Regions from separate parts of the Homo sapiens genome. Here regions 1, 2, 3, 4 and 6 are each reported to be linked to region 5. Evidence: microRNA targets listed by miRTarBase, many of them from high-throughput screens and not tested one by one. Region 5 holds a microRNA gene; each other region holds the end of a gene's coding sequence.
What was found. The annotated mature microRNA hsa-miR-34a-5p reads UGGCAGUGUCUUAGCUGGUUGU and lies in region 5 at 2,234-2,255, opposite strand. An mRNA with a match to its seed (bases 2 to 7 or 8) in the 3' UTR can be bound and repressed. Matches are read on the target gene's strand: a 7mer-m8 pairs with bases 2 to 8, a 7mer-A1 pairs with bases 2 to 7 and ends in A, and an 8mer does both.

Region 1: miRTarBase lists INTS10 as a target of hsa-miR-34a-5p. The part of its 3' UTR that is shown has no 7-base or 8-base seed match.
Region 2: the mRNA of DHX38 is a reported target of hsa-miR-34a-5p. The part of its 3' UTR that is shown has no 7-base or 8-base seed match.
Region 3: the mRNA of HRK is a reported target of hsa-miR-34a-5p. The part of its 3' UTR that is shown has no 7-base or 8-base seed match.
Region 4: the mRNA of KLHDC10 is a reported target of hsa-miR-34a-5p. Seed matches in the 3' UTR shown: 8mer at 2,201-2,208.
Region 6: the mRNA of HIBADH is a reported target of hsa-miR-34a-5p. The part of its 3' UTR that is shown has no 7-base or 8-base seed match.

The regions. Positions count from the first base shown.
Region 1 is chr8:19,851,399-19,855,031 of GRCh38, forward strand. It overlaps INTS10 (integrator complex subunit 10), which reads left to right. Exons shown (of 17, transcript NM_018142.4): 17 at 251-669. The coding sequence ends at 407. It overlaps LOC124901901 (a long non-coding RNA gene), which reads left to right and starts at 2,499. Exons shown (of 2, transcript XR_007060843.1): 1 at 2,499-3,633.
Region 2 is chr16:72,111,790-72,115,453 of GRCh38, forward strand. DHX38 (DEAH-box helicase 38) reads left to right here. Exons shown (of 27, transcript NM_014003.4): 27 at 624-1,123. The coding sequence ends at 708. Among named protein-coding and RNA genes, the nearest start is that of DHX38, 20 kb to the left of the region's middle.
Region 3 is chr12:116,878,230-116,881,893 of GRCh38, forward strand. HRK (harakiri, BCL2 interacting protein) reads right to left here and starts at 3,212. Exons shown (of 2, transcript NM_003806.4): 1 at 2,747-3,212. The coding sequence starts at 3,078. The coding sequence ends at 2,803. RefSeq lists silencers at 1,741-1,941, 2,820-2,899 and an enhancer at 3,405-3,664.
Region 4 is chr7:130,130,465-130,134,105 of GRCh38, forward strand. It overlaps KLHDC10 (kelch domain containing 10), which reads left to right. Exons shown (of 10, transcript NM_014997.4): 10 at 73-3,641. The coding sequence ends at 282. Among named protein-coding and RNA genes, the nearest start is that of LINC03008, 9.4 kb to the right of the region's middle.
Region 5 is chr1:9,149,502-9,153,165 of GRCh38, forward strand. It overlaps MIR34A (microRNA 34a), which reads right to left and starts at 2,276; the gene lies at 2,167-2,276. It overlaps MIR34AHG (MIR34A host gene), which reads right to left. Exons shown (of 2, transcript NR_132742.1): 2 at 1-2,334. RefSeq lists a silencer at 2,085-2,321.
Region 6 is chr7:27,523,190-27,526,853 of GRCh38, reverse strand. It overlaps HIBADH (3-hydroxyisobutyrate dehydrogenase), which reads left to right. Exons shown (of 8, transcript NM_152740.4): 8 at 482-1,412. The coding sequence ends at 640. Among named protein-coding and RNA genes, the nearest start is that of TSL, 91 kb to the left of the region's middle.

The sequences.
Region 1 (3,633 bases), not on the chromosome of region 5:
ATTTTACTGAACAATTAAATGTTTGAAGTAACCTTTTATAGAGTGAGAAAGATGTCTGTCTAGTTTTAAGTCTTTCTGAAGAGAAATGGGCTGGAATGTTTGGTTGGTTGCAGCTATTCTTGTGTTCTTTTTAAAATATCTGAAATTATACTTAGATATGGGGCAGGCTTTATTCCTACCCAAGTAGCAGCGATCAGCGATGCTGGTGCTAACCCCTGGTCTTTGTCTGTTTCCCTATTGCTGACCTCAGGCACCACACTGTAACTCGAGGCATCACCAAAGGCGTGAAGGAGGACTTTCGCCTGGCCATGGAGCGCCAGGTCTCCCGCTGTGGAGAGAATCTGATGGTGGTTCTGCACAGGTTCTGCATTAATGAGAAGATCTTGCTCCTTCAGACTCTGACCTGAGTGGAGACCTTTCCACCAGACACAGCTCGGGCCTGTGTAATTGTAGGAGAAGACACTCAGCAGTGATTGCCATGGCACAGAGCCGTGGTCATTGTTGCTGTTACAAAGAAGAAAACCATCTGAGTTCTAACTCCTTGGTTGCTTAAAAGTAGTTCCCAAGAGTCTGAGAAGCTATTTCTATTTTTAAGAGTCATTTTTTGTAATTTTTGTAAAACAAAAGTACCAATCTGTTTTGTAAATAAAAATCATCCTAAAATTTGAAGTTTTTAAAAATTTAATTCTTATGAGTTTTTGAACAGGGGTGCATTTTTCTTCTTTTCTAAGCATATAGCAAGGGGGAAAATCCAGCATAATTGAATTGAGTAATGAATTTTACTAATATAGATACTTACTTAAAAGACATATGTCTTCCATGACCTTAAGATTTTATTTTCCATAGTTAGGCTTTGGTCGGTATTGCATATCAACATAATATTAGACGTTTTCATTCAGGTGATCTCTTTTTTAGAAACAAGGTCTCACTCTACACCCAGGTTAGAGTGCAGTGGCACGATCATAACTCACTGCAGCCTCAAACTCCTGGCCTCAAGCAATCCTCCTGCCTCCAACCTCCCAAGTAGCTGGGACTACAAGTATACACCACCATGCTCAGCTATTTTTTTTTAATTTTATGTAGAGACAGGGTCTCACTATGTTACTCAGGTGGGTCTCAAACATCTGGCCTCCAGCAATCCCACCTCAGCCTCCCAAAGTGTTGGTATAACAGGCATGAGCCACCATACCTGGCCTCATTCGGGAAGTTTTAACACCAAAAACATTTATGTAAAAATGAATTTGAGCCTGACCTCTCCCACTGATGGTCCCCTGAAGGAGAGGTGCTCAGGGCTGCTGAAAAGCCCAGGACAGGAAGTGGAGGTGAGAGGCAAGGTGTGGCAGAGCAGCCTCCCCATTGCTGTCTGGCTCCAGGAAGTCCCTGCTGCTGTGCCAGGGTGGCCCAGTGGTTTCTACCCAGGGGCTTTGGAGCCAGGTGGCCTTGTGTGGCTTTGCATCCTGGCTTTGCCCTGCCCTTACTTGCTATGTGACCGTGGACAAGGTAACTTCTGTGTGCCTCAAGCTCTTTGTCTGAAAACGGAGCTGAGTGGTCCTCCCCTTGCTGGTTATTGGGAGGATGAAATGTTGCTCCACGTGAAATGCTTGGGAGAGGGCCTTGAGTGTAGTTAGTGCTGGCCAACATTAGCTATTAGGCTAATTTTTTTTTTTAATTAGGCTAATTTTATTTTCCTTTTGCTCTTCATGAAATTATACAGAAGACAAACATCAATAAAATTTGTTTCAAGGGAGTATTTAAGAATGAAAGAGCTAAGAAGTTTTGCAGTTACTCTGCATAAAAGGTCTTAGAAATCTTTTCTAAATAAAGATCCTTTTTATAGCTATATTAAAATCAATAAGATGGTTTAAATAAGAGACATCTGATCTCAAAAATATCAACTAGCTTGTTTTGCAGTGTTTATTAGTGTAATATGAGTTTATTACAAATATATAAGCTATCCTTTTTTTAGTGATGGGATGTGCTGCCACCTAAAAGCTCCCAAATTAAACACTCTCACCTTTAGGTTTTCTAACACTATTAGGGTTCTTCAGAGGGACCGAACTATTGGATAGATGTATATATGAAAGGGAGTTTGTTAAGGAGAATTAGCTGACATGATCAGAAGGTGAAGCTCCACAGCAGGCCGTCTGCGAGCCAAGGAAGAAGGAAGCCCACAGTGGCTCAGTCCAAGTCCAAAAGCCTCAAAAGCAGGGAGGCCAACAGTGCATCCTTCAGTCTGTGGCCAAAGGCCCGAGAGCCCATGACCAACCACTGGTGTAAGTCCAAGAGTCCAAAGGCCAAAGAACCTGGAGTCTGATGTCCAAAGGCAGGAAGCATCCAGCACGGGAGAAAGATGAAAGCCAGAAGACTCAGCAAGTCAGCTTATCCCACCTTCCGCCTACTTTGTTCTACCCTCGCTGGTGTCTACCCAGCTTGAGGGTGGGTCTTTCTCTCCCGATCCATTGACTCAAATGTTAATCTCCTCTGGCAAAAGCCTCACAGACACACCCAGAAACAATACCAGCTATCTAGGCATCCTTCAATGCAATCAAGTTGACACCTAATATTAACCATCACGAACAGCTTCCTCAGCTCAGTGTTTCAGGAGCAGTGCACATCACAACAAGACTTTCTAATACCCCAAAATGTAGGTACTAGCTAAAAGAGGATTAACCATCTTTTTTAAAATTCAGTGGTGCCACTTCTCTGTGAAGAGGCTGCAGGGAAAGGGCCACAGAATAAAATGGAAACTCAGACTGAATTTGCAGAAAAAGAAGGAGCTGGGAGAAAACTGCAGACCTCTCAGCACATAATGGCTCCATCCAAATCGCTGCACTAAGAGACCTGACCAAACTCTAGCTTGGCTACCAGCAGCTTAAGGCCATGACCCCAGTCCCGCTTAAAATGCCTGCCTGAGAAAGCTCCATGCTACCAAAATTTATTCCAGACCAAACCAGGTGATAGGCAGATAGGCCCCTGGACTCTCGCTTAGAATAGTTACTTTAAAAAGGTTGCAATTACACATCCTTTGCCCTTTGAGATGCAAAGTGACCCCCCAGAGCTGTTTTCTCAAGAACCCAAGAGCTGGCTTTTTGAAATCCATTCAGGGAATCAACTCTTGCTCCCAGTCCCTGTGACAGGGAACATTTGAGCTGGGTTTGGACCACTGTAACATTTAGACTCCTACAGGAGATGTACTGTTGCCATGGCAATCCTGCTCCCTAACAAAGGAACTGCAGGCTCAGGCTTTTGGTGTCTGCTTGTCTGAGTAACGAATGAGGCAAAGCTACCATCGGGATGACCTTAAGGCAGGCAGAAGATACAGCGGTGCATAGGAGGCTTGACTGACCTTGGATATCTCGTCCCAGACATTCCCCTCACCTGGCAGCGGGGTGCACCCTGCGTGCACAGCATCCTCCTCCTACGCTTAGGTCCATCTGGATGTAGAGTCCCTCCTGGGAAAAGGGGAACTGCCAGAAAGAGACACCTGCCCCTCACTCGTCACCAAATGCAGGTTCCTGGGGAAAATGATGCTAGTAAGACCTGCCTCTGGGTTTCCTAAGCAGCAGAACAGCTCCCTCGCTGCAATCCATTGAAAGTCAGTCCTGGACACCAGGGTTTGTCCACCCATATGGA
Region 2 (3,664 bases), not on the chromosome of region 5:
ATTGGGGTTCTGTTACTTAGGCATGAATGACTGAATCATTGTCATGTGGTAGAGCTCAGCCTCCAGTCCCCCCTCCTCCCCAGAGGTGAGGCTGATAGCACGTGGCTCAGAGCACCAGTGCTAACCCCGGGGCAGAGAGGCCAGCCTGCCTTGAGTCATGTTGTTAGATAAACTCAAGGGGTTCACCAAGAGTCACCTCATTAGCATAATCTCTCAAACGAGGGCTGAGGGGCCCCCATGAATAGCAGACACTCCAGTCACTTGGGAAATTCCAAGGGTTTAGAGTTGGCTCCTAGGCACTGGGGACAAAGGCAGGCTGCTACACAGTTGGAGTGGCGCACGTGAGGTGGAGGGAAGCTGCTTTTGTAGCTCCCCTAGGGACTGTGGGAGGAGTTGTTAAAATCCGATCTAAAGCATATCGGAATGAGTGAGCTTCCTTGATTACATCGCCAGTCGAACATGGGGACGGCAGAGGAGTGAGAATGTGCCGGGGAGGAGATCCCTCGGCCCAGAGCTCCCCACCATGGGTTAGGAACAGTAAGTCCTGGGGCTCTGCATCCTCCTGCCCTCCTGGCTGTGGGTGAGGGCACGGTGTTTCCTGATCTCTCCTGCTGTGTCTCCAGGTCTACGAAGATCTACACTCCAGGCCGGAAAGAGCAAGGGGAGCCCATGACCCCTCGCCGCACGCCAGCCCGCTTTGGTCTGTGAGCTGAGGCTGTCCCCAGAGAGGATGGCAGCAGGTATTGGGTCCTCAGCCTTCTGGCGGGAGCCCTGAGGCTGCGGACAAAGCCCTTTCATCTGAGGACTTTCATCTGTGCATATCACGGCCCCCCAGGGCAGTTCCTGCTGGACCAGACTCTCTGGCAGAGGAGGTGGAGTTCTTCCATGCAGGAGCACGGCATGGCGGGAGCGGGGCTGCAGAGTATCCGAGGTGCTGCCGGGGCAGCGGGAGGTGGCTGGACCCATCGCATCTAAAACTGGCCCAGGACACTTGGTGTATGCGTGACTTGGCTGTGGCTGTCTTTTTTAATCCTTGTGTAAAGCAGCAAAAAAGACCTAAAGGGAATTGTAATTTGGTTATAATTCAGGATTTGGAAATAAATTTATTATTTGTAAAACATGACTGCATGTCTGACTTTTTCCTTCACCCTCTTAAATCATGTAATAAAGGTGGGGGGTGCAGAAGCCTGCCCTGACTTCCTTTGCATGGGTCGTCCTGGAACTCTGCCCTTATTTCTGCACAAGGCAGACCAAGCTCTGAGGGTGCCCAGCTGCTCCTGAGGCTGGGGGGCACTGGCAGGTCTGCCTTGATGGCCAGGTCATGGGAGGGAAGTGCGCAGGAGTCCACCCCAGCCTTCCCTGGGGTGGTTTGGCTGCTTGAAAGAGGTCCATGTGATTGCTCTGGATGGCAGAGGGTAAGGGTTGTCCATTGACTGAAAAACAGTGTAAAATGTTGCTTATTGATTTTCACGTAAAAGGTGACCCTTACACCAGAATCACCAGTCTTTTCTCTTTTTAAGCAGTCTCTTAAGTCTGCTGAGGTGGCTTTTTGGGTGTTTGGCCCTTTCCACTAACCATGGTGTATATGTTGTGATTCCTCCAGGCTGGGCTTCTGCCAGGTGTGCTGGTTGGCAGGTTCTGTGTTGGGGTTGAGTCACAGACAGGATTGGGGCTCGGAAGCACCTTGATACCAGGCCAGTGCCGGCGTGAGCCCTGTGGTGCGTGGCCTGCTGTGCTGTTCTGATCCCTTTCTCCCTCTGTTCCTGGGATTTGCCTTTCCATGTTTTATAACTCAATAAATGTTAAAATGTAAGTCAATTTTGTGGGTGAGCTCAGAAGCCTAGCTTTGCCAGCCAGCACCAGCTACCACCTCTGCCTCCATTCTTCCCTCTAGCCCCCTTGGGGGAATGCAGGTGGAAATGGGCTTCTCAGGGCTCTGTAGTGAAGAGAGGGCTGCCAGCACTTTGCCTAGGAAGCATTCTAATCTTGGCCCTAGGTTGGAGGACTAGAAGTTGGCTGATGTGTGACCTATTTACAGAATCAGGCAATGGAGTAGGAAAAAGATTGAGGTTCTACTTAACAGTTATTATTAATAAGCTGTGACCTTGGTCACAAACTCACTAAGTCCCTTAGATAAAAAAATAAGGTCAGAGAGGCTATTAAAACAATGGGTCCAACTCAACCATCGTATTTACAAGCAAGGAACACCTGGTAAAGGATACTTGGTACATGTGGGTGCTACAAGAGGAATGGAGGGGTCCCCTGCCCACAGCAGCTCCCCCTGAATTTGCCACGGTACTGGAGCTTCTGCTCAAGGCTCTGTCTCTTCCTGTGTTTCCAGTGTTTTTTTAAATTACAGATCCTTTCCATTCCGATCTTCCTTAAAGTTCCTTCGAGCTTTAATATTCTGATTCTCACTGTCTTTTCTTCAGATGGCAACTGATTGTTTTTCTAGAGGTACAAAAGCATACCTATGACATGGTCTCTAGCACCATGGCCCCGTTGTGGACTCCTGAGTCTGGCTGACCCTTGTTATTGTCTGTATTTTTTTAGTGTAACCATCCTAATGGCTGGTATCTCATTGCAGTTTTGATTTGCATTTCCCTAGTATTTAGTGGTGTTGAGCATCTTTTCATGTGCTTATTATTGGTCATTTGTTTATCTTCTTTGGAGAAATGTCTCAAGTCCTCTTCCCCCCCGCTTTTTTTTTTTTGCATTAGTAACTTTTTAAAAATTTTTAAATTTCAACTTTTATTTTAGATACTGAGGGTACATGTGCAGGTTCATTATATGGGTATACTGTGTGATGTGGTAGGTTTGGGGTATGGATCCCATCACCGAGGTAGTAAGCATAGTACCCAACAGGTATGTTTTCAACCCATTTCCCTCTCTCTATTCCTCCCAACCAAGTAGTCCACAGTGTTTATTGTTCCTATATTTATGTCCCTGTGTGCTCAATGTTTAGCTCCCACTTATAAGTGAGAAGAAGTAGTATTTGATTTTCTGTTCCTGCAAGAATTAGCTTAGGATTATGGCCTCCAGCTGCATCCATGTTGTTGCAAGGGACATGATTTCATTCTTTTCTATAGCTGTGTAGTACCCCATGGTGTGTATGTACATTTCCTTTATCCAGTCCACCATTGCTGGGCACCTAGGTTGATTCCATGTCTTTGCTATTGTGAATAGTGCAGCGATGAACATGCGAGTGCATGTGTCTTTTTGGTAGAATGATTTATTTTCCTTTGGGTATACGCCCACTCATGGGATTGCTGGGTCAAATGGTAGGTCGATTTTAAGTTCTTTGAGAAACCTTCAAACCTTTGTTCACAGTGGCTGGACTAATTTACATTCTCACCAGCAGTATATAAGTGTCGCCTTTTCTCACCAGCCTTGCCGGCATCTGTTATTTTTTGACTTTTTAGTAATAACCATTCTGACTGGTGTGAGATAGTATTTCATTGTGGTTTTGATTTGCATTTCTCTGGTGATTAGTGATCATGAGCATTTTTTCATATGTTTGTTGGCTGCTTGTATGTCTTCTTTTGAGAAGTGTCTGTTCATGTCCTTTGCCCATTTTTTTAATGGGGTTATTTGTTTTTTGCTTGATTTGTTTAAGTTCCTTATAGATTCTAGATATTAGGCCTTTGTCAGCTGTGTAGTTTGT
Region 3 (3,664 bases), not on the chromosome of region 5:
ATTGATTCTGCATATAGCGGAGCACACCCTTTAAACCTATGGGAATTGAAAGTGGTAGTTCCCACCCTATATGGCTGGCACAGGCCTCCCTCAAACACCTAAGGTACAGCTGTGAACATTCCCCTTTTTCTTTTAGGGTAGGGAAGGTGGAGAGCACCCCATATCCAGCATAGAACGCAACAGACTGTCTTCCTCCGGTGATTTTTCTTTCCCCTTTACTTAACTTACCAGAGCTGGGAAAAAATGAGTTTCCCCAAATTAAATCAAAAGCACAAGAAAGGCCGGAGCGGCTGGTATTCTGAGGTCAGATGTAGGCTGCAGGGAGAGAACTTGATCAGGGCCAGTGCAGGGAGCCCGAGCACTGAGAACCCGGCCTGGGAGCGCAGGAAGGCGGGTGGTGAGCAATTCTACGGGTGTCCCGAGGGTATGAGGGGCGGTGCTGCTGGGAAGCCGAGCGGGGCATCCTGAGGTCAGGGCGCCAGAGGCTGCAGAACCCTGGAGGGTGTGGCTGCAGGGGACGCCCGGGCGGGACAAGGCAGGTAGGAGAAGAACCCAGAGGTGTGGGAAGAGGGTGTCTCCGAGTCAGGGCGCAGCACGGAAGTAACTCTGGGGTAGAAGGCGAGGGCGGGGCGGGGGAAATAAACTCCACAGAGACAATAACCTGCTGCTGCCCCCCAACACCGACTCAAAACAGCGAAACTCCTGGCCGCCGCCCTCCCCTGCAGCGCAGGCCCCAGTTACCCAACTCCTCCCCTGCGCTCCGGCGCAGAGCGGCGCAATCTGCCCGCCCCGCCCGCAGCCTCCCCTTCCAGGCCCCGGGAGCATTCCCACCCCGACACTCACACACCGGCAAACAGGAACACACAGTCAGGCTCCGGCCCGGAGTCCTCGGCCTCCCGGGAGGGGCACCCGACATCCCGCACGCCTGGTGCCGGAAGGGGAGAGCGTTTCCAATCTCCTGGACGACAGAACCAGAGAAAGCCGTGTCCCAGCCCTCTCTCCACAGTTCTATTTGATTTTACTACCTTCCTCTCTTTCCTTCTCATTCACTTTTCAATTGTCTTGCAACTTGTTTTCCAGGCAGTTTCTCTTTTTCTCTATCCTCCCCAAACTTCTTGTCCCTCCCCATCTCGTCGCTTGTTTTTTCTCTTCCTCTTCGCCCACTTTTTTTCTGCCTCTTCCCAAATTCCACGCTTTGGGCTTCGCGTCTGTCGCTCAACTTCCTTTTTCTGCACCCCGCGATCCATCCAAAATGTTCTTCCTGTCCCTGGGATTGGGCAGCCTCAGCCTGGCCCCTTTCAGTCGCGGGAGCCCCTGGCCTCTCCAACAGGAGAGAGAGAAGGTAGGGAGAAGTGGATGGGACCCCCGGCGCCCGGGAGCCGGGCAGAGAGCGCCCCGAAGCGCGCATTTCTCTTCGCCAGCGCCCGGGCTGCGCGGGCCCACGCGACATCTGTCGCCTGCGGTCCCGGCTCACACCCCGCGCACCCCCGCAGCTCCCTGGGCGCTGCCACCCCCCACGCTCCGGCTGCCGCCTTTCCCCGCGGGCGCAGACGCTCGGGCCTCGCCTTCAGGCGCCGCTCCAACTTCCCAGGGTGTCTGCGGCGCGCGGCGGGGCTCGGGGGCGGGGACCTAAGGGCGGCTGGCTATGTCACCTTCGAGCTTCACCTTCCGGCCCTAGACCCATCTATGGTGGGCTCAGCCTGATTCTCTCTCCCTCATTCTCTGCAGCGCTCCTCGCTACTCCAGGATCCAGAGTAGTAAGACGATGCTTACGCTGTGTGCTTCCTCAAAGCGCCTAGCACAGTGCCAGGCGCACAGCTAGGGCACAATGATCCCCCCACCCCAAGAGCCTAGTACCTTCCTCCCACTGATACCAACCACACTAGGTGCTCAGTACCCACTTCCTGTCCTAAGTTCTCAACACATGACCTCCCTAAACAGTGCCCAGCACCCCGAAGGAGCTCAATAAATGTTCCTTCCTTAAGGCTTCCCATTGGAGTTTCCCTGAAAGCCCCCTATTCCAGCCCACTCCGAGGGCGTCTCCTTCCCGTAGCAGCTACAACCGTCTGGGGAGAAGGAAGCCAAACTCCTTAAACAGGACACCTCACTCGAGAAGGAGCGAAGTTGGCAGGGCAGAGGAAAATTGCAAATGCGCGGAGCTTGGGAAGAAAGATTGGGCCAGCCAGAAACCTGGAGGGGGAGGAAGTCTCGAGATGCGCTTGGGGTGCCAGATAATGGGGATCAGAGATTGGAGAAGTGACACTTAGGGACAAGAGGTTGGGAGCAAAGGTGATGGAGACGGGGGCGACTCAGGAACGGCAAGAGGATTGGAACGGGACCGGGGACCTTTCTTGGAAGTGCGATAGATTTTAAGTATTTGGCGTGGCTTACAACTACATTCCCATAGCAAGCACACTTTTTACTTGCATTGTGTGTTTATTTGTGGGGCTGGTGGGGATTATGGAGGCTGAAGTCCTCCGCAAGCCACTGAGCTATAAGTGAGTAGCAAGATGCGCTTAAGGACTCGCAGAGATGGGGGCAGAAACGGTGGACCTTACACTTGGAAGGGAAGACTGGGGACTGGGTAGAAGAGGAGAGGTGGAGATGCTTGCAAGAGAAGAGAACGGAGGAAGAAGGAGAAGGGAAAAGAAGAAAGCCAAACTTGCCACTCTCCCGCTCCCGGGCCAGCCCAGCGTCTCCAGTGCCCAGCTGCCGCGCCCCGGCTCTCGCTCGCTCGCTCGCGTACCTGTTGCTCGCTCCGGCTGGGTCTCGGCTCCGGCCCCACCAAGAAGCCCCGCGTTCCTACAAGTTCCGCCTGCCGAGCAGCCAGGCCGCCAGCGCCGCCACCTGCGCGGCCGCGCACAGCCAAGGCCAGTAGGTGGGGAGCGCGCCGGGCGCCGGCGCCCTCCGGCTCCGCGCGCGGCGCCGCCACATGGTGCGCTGGTGCAGCTCGTCGCCTAGCGCCTTGAGCCGGGCGGCGGTGAGCTGCGCGGCGGACGAGCGCAGCCCCAGGCGACCCGCGCTGCAGGCGCACACGGCCGGGGGGCCGCGGCCGCGGTGCAGGGGGCACGGGCACATGACCGCTGGCCTCGCTCCCGCCCCGCGCTCGGGCCGCCCCTCGCCTCCTCTCCCTCCGGCCTCTGCGCCCGCTGCCGCCGCGCTCCAGCCGCCGGGGGCCTCCCCTGGACACCAAGTTTCTCCTTGTGTTGTGCGTTTGTTGTGCTGACGGCGCTATTATTAATTAAAGTGTCACATGGTGGAGGGGGGCGGGGAGGGGGGTTACATCATCCGGCCCCCGGGGGTTGGGGGGGGGGCTGCAGGCAGAAGAAACCGAGAGGTAACTTTTAACCCTAGCGGCGCCGGCAGCTAGGGAGCGCGAGGTTTGGGAGACGGGGAGCGCGGCGCGGGGCGGCGCGAGAAGGCTCCCCGCAGCGGAGGTCCTGGGCTTTGGGGGTCTCGGGGGACCCCCGCGGAGGCGCGGAGCGCGAGGGAAGGTTGTTCTCCTTCCCCTTTTCCTGAATTCAGCTCGAGTTCCGATTTGGCGAGGGAAAAAGGCTTGTTTGCCGTTTTGGATGAAGCTGATGCTGAATTCGGCTGCATTATTCAAAAATATTCCGAGGCTGTTGTTTTGTTTGGGGGAGGTGGGTGGATTCAAAATCTTATG
Region 4 (3,641 bases), not on the chromosome of region 5:
TTTTCCCCACTGAGTCTTCAGCCTTGTATGTTTCTCTCCCGTTTGAATTTGTCCTCTTTTGACTACTCATAGGCTGGTTGCATGTACATTCATGGAGGAGTGGTGAACATCCATGAAAACAAACGGACTGGGTCATTGTTTAAGATCTGGCTGGTGGTACCTAGCCTGCTGGAACTGGCATGGGAGAAGCTGCTTGCGGCCTTCCCTAACCTTGCAAACCTCTCCCGAACACAACTTCTGCACCTTGGACTCACACAGGGACTCATCGAACGCTTGAAATGAGGATTTCTGGACTGTTCATTGATACTGGAAATGTTAATTTAAAGAGACTCCTTTATTTATGGGCAGTGTAGAATGTGCTACAAAGAGGATTGGTTACCCTGATCAAGGCCTTATTTAGAAAATACATCAGATGCCTTTCTGTAAATTGGTTTTTCAGTTTATGGACATCTCACTTTCCCACGTGCTTCCTTCTTTGCTTCTGTTCCTCCTGACCCATTACATGCACATGTACTCACATACTCCCTCTTCCTTCTCGATGGAGTTAAGGGAAAGCCTGAAAGTACCTTAATAATGTTATTAATCAAGACAGATTCCTTTTTAAAGGAATTCTGAATAGTTCCATGTCATACAATATTCTAGAAATTAAAACATCATCAACATAAAGAAAAATGAAATTAAAAAATTTTTACATCTAGCAACAGCAACAACCACAAATTTAGGGGAAGCTGAGAAGGCTAACCTTGGGAATCTTGCAGGTTATACTTAAACCTAGATGTTTAACTTAGTGTTTTCAAGATGTGTCTAACTGAGTAGTAGCTGGGTCTGATGGCAGCAGTGCTTGCCATCTTGTTGCACAGATAACTCAAACCTACCCTTTGGCTTTGAAGGAAGGTTAAGCAGCCCAGCAACTCTTGGTTAGTGATTTCTTTCTCATCCTCATGGTGCCAGCAGTGGTTAGAGTTGGTTTGTCAAAAGACTTACGTGTGTGTCGTGGTCGTGCTCTTTGTTGTTGCTCTTAGAAATTATGGCACCAAGAATGTTTCAAACGGAAAAACTTGTGGTGGCCAAAGTTCTTCATTCTGGCAGTTTTGAAACTCTCTTATGCTTATTAATGGTTTTAAATATCTCTTTGACTTCTTCATGGGGAATTGTAGACCCTAAGTATGTGGTGTAAATGCCATGTAACATGAACACAAGCTCCCGAGGGAGGCCAGAGAAGAGCCAGGCAGAGAAAACCTGCATCCTCTGGGCTTGTTAACTTGGCTTCCACTCGGGCTGTGGTCTTTGGCTATCATCTTGGCCATTTCCTTTTGAGAACTTGTTTCTTTTCTAATCTCTGGGCCAGGTACCTGCCATTTTCTCAGGCAGTTGGTCCTTGATTTTTCCCTTAGCTTGTTGCCTTCTTTTCCGTCTGCTTTAATGTGCATGGTGCTGTGAATAATTGTCTAGTAATTGGATACAAGGTCTTGGGGGTAAAGCCACAGGTCATCCTTCCTGAAGAACCAAGTATCATTTAAAAACTAGCATGAGGAAGGAATGAAACTGAGTAGCATTCATTTTGTGTGTGTGAAATTTTAGTTCTGGTTTGTTTGATTTGTTTTTTTTTTAATTCTAAAAAGAATGACATAAATTTTCACTCGCTTTGCCATCTGGCTGCTAGGGGAGCTGAGCAAGAGGCTCACCATGCGCATGTGTAAGCCGCAGGTGTACTCAAGGTGCTGAAGGCGTGCAAGGGGCAGCGCTGGTCCTCCCGGGGCCAACTCACAGCAGGAGACTCGCATGGGAGAGTTGGAACACATCTTTCCTTTAAGTGCCTCTTTTTTCACCTAGCTTTTAAAGTTATTCTTTGTCCTTCATCTCAGAAGGGATCTCTTTAGCTTATGTGTGGATTTAAAATGACCTTTGAGCTACGGTTAAAAAGCTACCATCTGGTGTTCAGTTCTGGGAAAGAGAAAACCGTAGCCTCCAGACATGCTCCTGATTTCTAGGCCTTATCATACCATCCCCTCTGTGATGGGTTGAGTTCATGGAGCCTGTATTCTGGGAAGTCTTATAATAACCACGCACCTGTGAACGTGGGTCCTTTCTGGGGAGTGAGGAATGTGGGAGAGAGGCAGAAAAAGGAGCAGCTCCTCTAGGGGCCCATCCTCCCACATCTTGCCATTACCAGTCTGTGTAGCACTTAACCTCCTGCCACCACTGCCAGGCTTGCTCCTCCGTTCTCTCCCAGAGCAAGTCAGTCTGAGCAGCTCCATTAGTCCAAAACAGAGCTTTGCTGCATGACTTCAGCCTGGCCTCTGGATATTTGGTGGAAATATATTCTAAATTGAACAAGCCAGGCTGTCCAGGGTGGCAAGAGGATTTTTGACCTGGATTTATACAGGGACCAAAGACTGAATGCTCAGCCTCTGTGCTTAGACTTTCATGGTCCTTAGGATAGAAGTGAGTCTCTAGCCCTGCTACACCAGAGAGCTGAAGAGAGATGTGGTCTGGTTCCATCCATACTTGCTGGCATCCTTTGTTAAGCCTTCTGAGGGCAGTCTTCTTTGAGGTAGACCTTGGAGGCCTGACATCGAAGACCTGTGTGTTTTATTTTCATAAAAGTATATATCCTTGGTCTAAAGTGTCTTCTTTTAATATAACACTAGTAAAAATGACATGGTATGACCAGCACTGAGTGCTATAGAACCACACATGTGTACATGTTCTGGATGCCAAATGAGACTGTGTGTAAATGACTAAGTGTAGATAACTAGAAATTAGATAGGGGTCATCAGGCGTTTCGGTATACCTATAACCAGCACTCGGAATTCCTGACACTGTTTACTTGATTTAGGAAAGTTTATGCCTGCTGCTTCTCTGCCTCTTTGAGGTACTCCCAGCCGTCTTACTACAGTCCTGTAAATTTAAGTGCAATATATAGAAACATATGGATATATACAGATTATATATAGGGTGTAACTATAAAGCAGGTAGACTACTTTTTTGCATCTTGGGGAAGTGAGCTCATTACTTTAGGTTCAAATTATGCCAAGAATTTTAGATGTGATCAGCTGGCTTAAGCCAACTCATGTCATGATAAAGCTGGATTTTCAAGTCCATGTTTTCTTACTCCAACTCTTAGAGACTCATTGTTCCTTAGGTTTGTTAGAGTTGAGATTTTTTTTCTCCCTGTCATCTTTGTACTCTCTCATGTTTGCATGTCTTACATTTTGTTGCCGGAGAACAAGGAAGTCCATCTGTAAGGAGTTTCCTAAACGGAGAATTAAAACCTAGTATTTAACACTAACCATTCTCCTATGTATATACTAATTTATCTGGGAATGTAATACTTTATTAAATGAAGAAAATGATGCTTTCTTCATTTAATATTTTCCACATCCTGGAAAAACTATAAACTGACACAGAATAGGTTGAAATCTTAACTGGGGCTAAACAAAACCCTTTCCATTGGCAGAATCTCCTTTTTTCAGGGCCATAATGACATGATGTAAAAATTTGCTTTAAACCATTCATGCCCTTAAATAGCTAGATTTTAAAGCATAATAAGCATATTAACATTTTTAAGCAAAAGATACGTTAACAGTGACCTTTGGTTATCCACAGTAGCAAGAGTAAAGCACAGATCATTGAAATCC
Region 5 (3,664 bases):
GCTGGGATTACAGGCATGCGCCACCGTGCCCAACCCAGACATCACTTTTATCTGAAGCAACAACTATCTGCTCTTTCTGTTTCCTTACTAATTATCCAGGAACTTTTACAGGTGAACTCTGAGGAGGACAATTTTTATTGTTTTTATGTCAGCATAACTAAAAGTAAAGCTGGATAGGAAGAGGTTACTTGAAAATGATTTCACCTGAACTCAAATGAATAAGCTGGCTACTGCATAAAGCAACAGAGGGGTCCCTTTAATTTAAAAGCTCAGGACTCTGAATCAATTGCTGGTTGGGAGAAGGTAGAGACATTCTTTACTTCTGCCTAGAACTGGGGAAAATGGCGTAGACTTCTGCTCTGAAGCAGTCCTCAGTGCTGCTTCGGTCAGAACTCCCGAGAGGCATCTGAGTGCTGGCCTGTCACTGCGGCTGGCATTCCAGGCATTTCATTGGCCCCACTTCAGCCCACGCCTGGCTCCACGGGGCTGGGCAGCTGAGGGGAGTTTGTGGCAGAGTGGGCATGGGGCACGGCCCGTGCAATGTGCGTTACAAAGGGGCTCTCTCTGAAGCAAGTCCTCTGCACTCCAGTCTATTTGAGGAAGAAAAGGACAATTCCCATAGGGAGGGGGTTTGCTGAAGCAACCAGCTGCCTGGTTTCCTCTCCAGCATTGAGAGGGAGGGAGGGCTGGCTTAACTGGGGGACGGCCTTCTCATCTGGACTGTGTCAAGGCCAAGGTTAGGCTCCAAATTCCAGAAAACCTCTCTGCAGGGTCTTCTTTCAGAGTGGTGAGAATGGAAGCAGGCTCCCTTCCCCTCCAGCACTAGGAAGCCCCGCAATTGGTGAGGTGCAAAGAAAGATGGGCCCAGGCAGGGAGGCGGGAGCAGGGGAGGTGCCCAGGGCAGTGGCTGGAAGGGCAACGGGAGAAGCAGCAGAGGCTGGGGGTGGGGGTCGCAGCAGGTGCTGTCCCTGGCCTGTGTGAAAGGTACTAGAAGGCCCCATCCTTGGTGCCACATGGACCCCAGAGGCTTGTCTTAGTCCATGGGGTCCGAGGTGTAAGACACTTACGTTTGGCGTCACCTCTTAGGCTTGGATGAATTTCAGAAAGTGCTAGACTGGAGAACAGTGGAAAAAATCAGTGGAACAAGATCTGGAGCACTCACTGCTCAATGTCAATGTTAGAGAGCACAACGACACCAATGGGAGGAGGGTGAGGACCAGAGGCTGATTGCATGAGCTCTGTTGGAGTGCAGGACCCACTAACGGGTTATCTCAGGGTTCCTGGAGGCCACGGCTGTGCCTTGTGGTCCAAGACCTGGGGAAGCCACCACTGTGTCTTCCCTCTCCATCCTCCGGTGACTTTGGTCCAATTCCTGTTGCCATGGCAATCAGCCCAGCTGGCCTCACAGTTCACTGGCCTCAAAGTTGGCATCTGTAGGTGAAGCCAGTGGGACCCAGAGAACTTAATTCTTCTCAACTGAGCTGGCTTGGAGGAACTTTTCTCATCAGCCACTGGAGCAGAGAACGTCACCAGCGTCTCACTGACGTCAACATCCTGGGCCTGGCTCTAGCTGAAAAGGAAAATTCTCCCCAAGGCAGACACATCTCCCGAAGCCCACACAGGCACTTTCTATGATTGCACTGGAAATCTGTCTCCTGGGGACAGGGAGCGCGTACGCTCACAGTCAAGTCACAATGTTGAGCAGTCTCCAGGACTCCACGTTCATCTCTAAGAACAGGAGCCGGTGGTTGGGCGCAGATTCTTGAGCCAGATTGCTCGCGTTCAAAACCTGGTCCCTTTTTATTAATTGCATGCTTAGTTACATTTTCTGTTTGTACTTTTGTTTCCTTCTCTGCAAGACGGGGTTAATCACAGACACTTGTACATGATGTAATACACTTACAATACTTAGGACAGGCCTTCCTGCATAGTAAGTGCTCTGCAAACACTGGCTACTATTCTCCCTACGTGCAAACTTCTCCCAGCCAAAAGCCGCCCACACCAAGCCCCTGTGCCTTTTTCCTTCCGCACCCACGAGCAGGCTGCTCCTGGGGCCCTGGAGCTCACTTTCCCAGCCGCCCTCACCACCCACCGTGGCGCAGAAGAGCTTCCGAAGTCCTGGCGTCTCCCACTGGTCTGGGCATCTCTCGCTTCATCTTCCCTCTTGGGCCCCACAACGTGCAGCACTTCTAGGGCAGTATACTTGCTGATTGCTTCCTTACTATTGCTCACAACAACCAGCTAAGACACTGCCAAAGAAACACTCACAGCTGGCCGGTCCACGGCATCCGGAGGGGACTCGGGGGACAGGCCTGTCCTGCCTCTCCCCAGCACCTGTTGATAAGAAGGAAATGTGGGGAGGAAAGAAAGGATGCAGGAGGCCGAGGTGGGAGGATCGCTTCAGGCCAGGAGTTCAAGACCAGCCCAGGCAACTAGCAAGACTCCATCTCTACAAAAAAATTTTAAAAATTAGCCAGGCATGGTGACATGCGTGCCTGTAGTCCTAGCTACTGGAGAGGCCAGGGCAGGAGGATCGCTTGAGCCCAGGGGTTGAGGCTGCAGGGAGCTGTGATTGCGCCAGTCTGGGTGACAGGGTGAGACCCCGTCTCTAAAAATAAAAATTGGGTGATGGCTCACACCTGTAATCCCAGCAATTTTGGAGGCCAAGACAGGAGGATCACTTGAGGCGAGAAGTTCAAAACCAGCCTGGTTAACATAGCCAGACCACCACCTTCAGCAACTGTCTCTACAAAATGAAAATAAAAATAATGAAAGAGAGAGGATGGAGGAGAAGGCTGAGACCAGTAACAGATTCCAAAAGGACTAATTGACAAGGAGAAAAAGAGTCAGCACTTCCCTGGAAGAGAAAAAATTCGAAAAGGACAGTGGTTGAAAAGTCAGCATGTCTGCGTGAAAGGGAAGCAATGAAGTAGCGCCAACTCCTCCCCCGTCCCGGGCACCGTTTAGGGAGAGGATCAGAGTTCTGCCAGAGAATCAGAACCAGAAGGAGATATAGATTAAGTTTATTTCAAGGAATCGGCTTACGTGATTGTGGGGGCTGGCTAGGCAAGTCTGAAATCCAGAGGGCAGGCCAGCAGGCCGGAAGCTCCCCGGAGGAGCTGACACTGCAGTCCCCAGGCAGGATTTCTTCTTCTTCAGGGAAACCTCGGTTCTGCTCTTGAGGCCTTTCAACCGATTGCATGAGGCCCACCCACCTCGCAGAGGAGAACCTTTGACTTACAGCCAGTGATCATCAGTGCTGACCACATGTACAACGCACCTCACAGTAGCACCCAGGCAAGCGTTTGGTTGAATCATGGGTATCACAGCCTCGCTAAATTGACAAGGAAATTGCCCATCACAGGGTTTAAGATCTAGTGCTTTAAGATCTACTGACTTCTTGTTGTTTTGTTGTTGTTGTTTTTATAGAGATGGGTTCTTGCCATGTTGCCCAGGATGGTCTCAAACTCCTGGGCTCAAGTGATCCTTCCGCCTCGGCCTCCCAAAATACTGGGGTTATAGGCATGAACCACTATGCCAGGCCAAGATCTAGTGACTTTGGATACGGACCACCACGGAACAGTTCCTCTTCCATGTGGGTGTGGGGGCATGAAGGACTGTTTTCAGGAGGATCAAAGTCACCTCTACCCCAGCATGGGAAGTC
Region 6 (3,664 bases), not on the chromosome of region 5:
GAGTTTGGGTGGGCTGTGGCTGTTTTGCTCATCATTTTATCCCAGCTTCTGGCACATTGTCAGCACACTTCAAATATTTATTGGATGAAGTAATATTTGCAACTGTATTTCCTGTTTTGCAGTTTTATTTCTCCTTGTTTTCATTTAAGAATTTTTTAAAAAAAATTTATGTCTTAAAGATTTCCACAGATAAGATTACACAGGGAAATTTTTTTTCTTCAAATCTGTGGAACAAAACAAACAGGTATTGTGGAAGGTGGAAAAATCGAAGAGACACTCAGAAATCAAGGTTTCTGTCTGGAGCAATTTTGCAGTTATATGAAAGCGCTTATTTAAAAATGTTAACTTACCATAGTATTTATAAGTATCTTATTTTTTCAGATTACATTTTTCCTTCTTTCAAACCAAAACATAAGGAACCACAGTTCCAAAGAGCCTTTACCACCAGTCTCAGCGTGTTCTCTCCTCCTGTTTGATTTAGGATCTGGGATTGGCACAAGACTCTGCTACCAGCACAAAGAGCCCAATCCTTCTTGGCAGTCTGGCCCATCAGATCTACAGGATGATGTGTGCAAAGGGCTACTCAAAGAAAGACTTCTCATCCGTGTTCCAGTTCCTACGAGAGGAGGAGACCTTCTGAGTGTGCCCTTTGGCCACGGACACTGTTGGGAACCAAACTCTGTCTTGGAGCCTCCTTTTAGCTCACTCCACAAGTAAATGGATTTAATCAAAGGTCACCTATCTGCTTTTGATTGTCTAGGTCACAGTAATCCCTAGGATTTTTCACCGCTTATTCTTTTTGTCTTTTTAACAAACATATTATCCGAATTTTTTTTCTGCAAGCCACTGATAGTCTCTGCTAACTAGCTTAATTGACCTTTTTACAAAGTTTGATCCCCAAGCATCCTCAACTAAATCATTGAATACTTCAATCAGGATATTATCTGCTTTACTTTACAAATAAAACCAAATCTTTTGTCAACAGGATGAAACCCATCTTAAAGGAAAGAAAAGGAATTGGTGTGAAGAGAGAAGTTAGAGAAGGGAAATGCAGTGAATTACTATCTGTGTCCATCAGGAAGTTTGTCCTGTTAACCAAATGGTTACTGCACTACCAGGGTTACTGGTTTATTTTCCAGGGAGCTGATAAAGCAGGAGAACTGTTGCTGCATGTTTTCTATTTGGACTCCGTCACAATATGGTAGGATATCCCTCACCAACTCCCGACACTCAGCAGACTTGTTTTTATATTTTTTTCTTTCTTGTTCATTCTTACTACGTATTTTTTGACTTAAGAATGACATCTTTAGATGCATTTCAGAGCCAATGATGATATTTGCTTTAGATAATTATTATATTATTATAAATATAGCCATATTATTTTGAATTCAAATAAATTTCTATACTGGTAATACTTTCTTGGTGTTTTTGTTTCTTCCCCATCATTTGGTGAACTAATGTTCTGACAAACTGATGTTCACACTAATGGGGAAAGGATGGGAATAAAGAGAAAGGAGGGGAGGTCAAAAGGAACAAAGCTCTGAGTTGGCCAGTGGCAAGCTAGTGTTTTGCTGCTTTACCTGAATCCTTATTGAGTATTCGTTTGAATGTTTTTTAGGTCATCAGTTCTCTAGGAATTCAGCCAGCATTAAGTGTAACATGCCCCAATATGGAGCACAGTCACCACTTTTCCCACCTCAGCCTCTAGAAACATTCCAGGTAATAGACCTAGACACCAAATTTGGCAGAAGTATTACTACTTTCATCATTTTACTGGTGATAAAAAATTCCAGGCACTGTTATAAGTGCTGGGGATACAGTGATGAACAAGACACAAGATTTCTGCCCTTGCAGAGCATAAGTTCTGGTGTCTCATGTGTTTGTGACAGACAAGAAATATGTATTTTTCAGATAAGAAGAACTAAAAAGAAAAAGCAGGATAACGGGGATGGATAGGGAGTGCCAGGGGTATTTTCTTAGGGTGATAAGGAAAGTTCTCCCCAATAAGGTGTCAATTGAGCAGAGGTAAGGGAGTAAGCAATGCAGGTATCTGAGGAACAAACATTCCAGGCAAAGGGGACAGAAAGTACCAAGGCCCTGAGGTAGGACAGTACTGAATATGAGGAATAACAGGGAGGCTATAAGTGAAGTGGCACAGAATGAGGGTGGCCAGATCATATGGGGCCTTGCAGGGTATGTTAGGACACTGGCTTTTATTCTGAGCAAAATGGGCAATGTATCAGTTAGCTTTTGCTGGATAACAAATCACCCCAAAATTTAGTGGCTTAAAACAACAAACATGTATTGTTTTTCAAGATTCTGTGGGTTGGCCATATTATTATTCTGGCCTAGACCAGCTCATCTGCAGCTAGAGTGTCTAGTTTGGCTTTACTCAGCTGGGACAGCTGGAATGGTTGGGGCTTCTCTCCATGTTTTCATGCATTCTCCAGGAGGCTGGTATGAATTTGTTCACATAGTGGTGGAAGCATCCCAGCAGCAGCATAGGACAAGCCCTGACTTTCTAAGCCTCTGCTTGCTTCATGTTTGTACTTTCCCCTTGGCCACAGCAAATGTCATAGCCAAGCCCAGAATCAGCATATGTGGGGTCTGCATAAGAGTGTGGACACAAAGAGGGGCATTATGGTGGCCTTTTTGCAAACAGCCTATCACAAGCAGCCTGTGAAACTTTTTCACCAGATTGATGTGATCTGACCTACTTTTTTAAAGGGATCACTCTGGATGCTGTGTGGAGAAGAGTCTGTAGGAGCAAGGCTGGAAACAAGGAGACCAATTCGGAGGCAATAGTAATAACCCAGTTGAGAGGTGGTAGCTGGGACCAGAATGTTAAAATGATGGAGGAGGCAAGAAGTGGTTAGATTCTGAACCTAGAAAACAGAGCCACTAACTGATGGATGGCATGAGAGAGAAAGTAGGGAGTCAGGGATAATCCCACTGTCAGTGGCCTGAGAAAGCAGAAGAAAGAAGTTGCCATTTCCTATATGGGGAAGATCATGGGGGGAAGATTTGGGGAGGATTGTAGGAAGTTTAGGAGAAAAAAATCAGAGATTTATATGAGATGCCTTAATAGACATCTAAGTAAAGAAGAACAACAGTCCAAGGACTGAGCCCTGTGTTACTGTAACTTTAGTGGTTAGGAAAATGAGGGGGGACAAGCAAATGAGACTGAAGCAGAGAGATCAGTAAAGTAGGGGAAAAACATGGGAGCAGTGTCCCAGGAGCCAAATGAAAACAGTATTTTAAGGAGGGAATGATGATCTGTGAGTTGAGTAATAGGGCTGAGAATCATTTGGATTTGGCAAAAGAGCTATCACTGGTGACTTTTTCAAGAGTTTTGGTGGAGTCTTGGAAATGAGAGTTGGATTGAGAGTGGGAGAGGAATTGGAAACAGTAAGTATAGAGAATTCTTGAAGAGCTTTGCTGCAGAGGAAAACAGACAAATGGGATAGACATTGGCAGCAAATAAGGGACCAGGAGGAGTTTTATTATATTTTTAAAATAGGAAATGTTATGGGATTATACGGATGGAAGTGGAATGATCCAGTAACGAGGGGAAGTAATGGCACAACAGAGAGGCTACTTGCTAAATGCTGCCTTTCGAGTAGTTGAGAGGGAAGGGGTTTAACTGTGGCCAAATCTCTGCAAA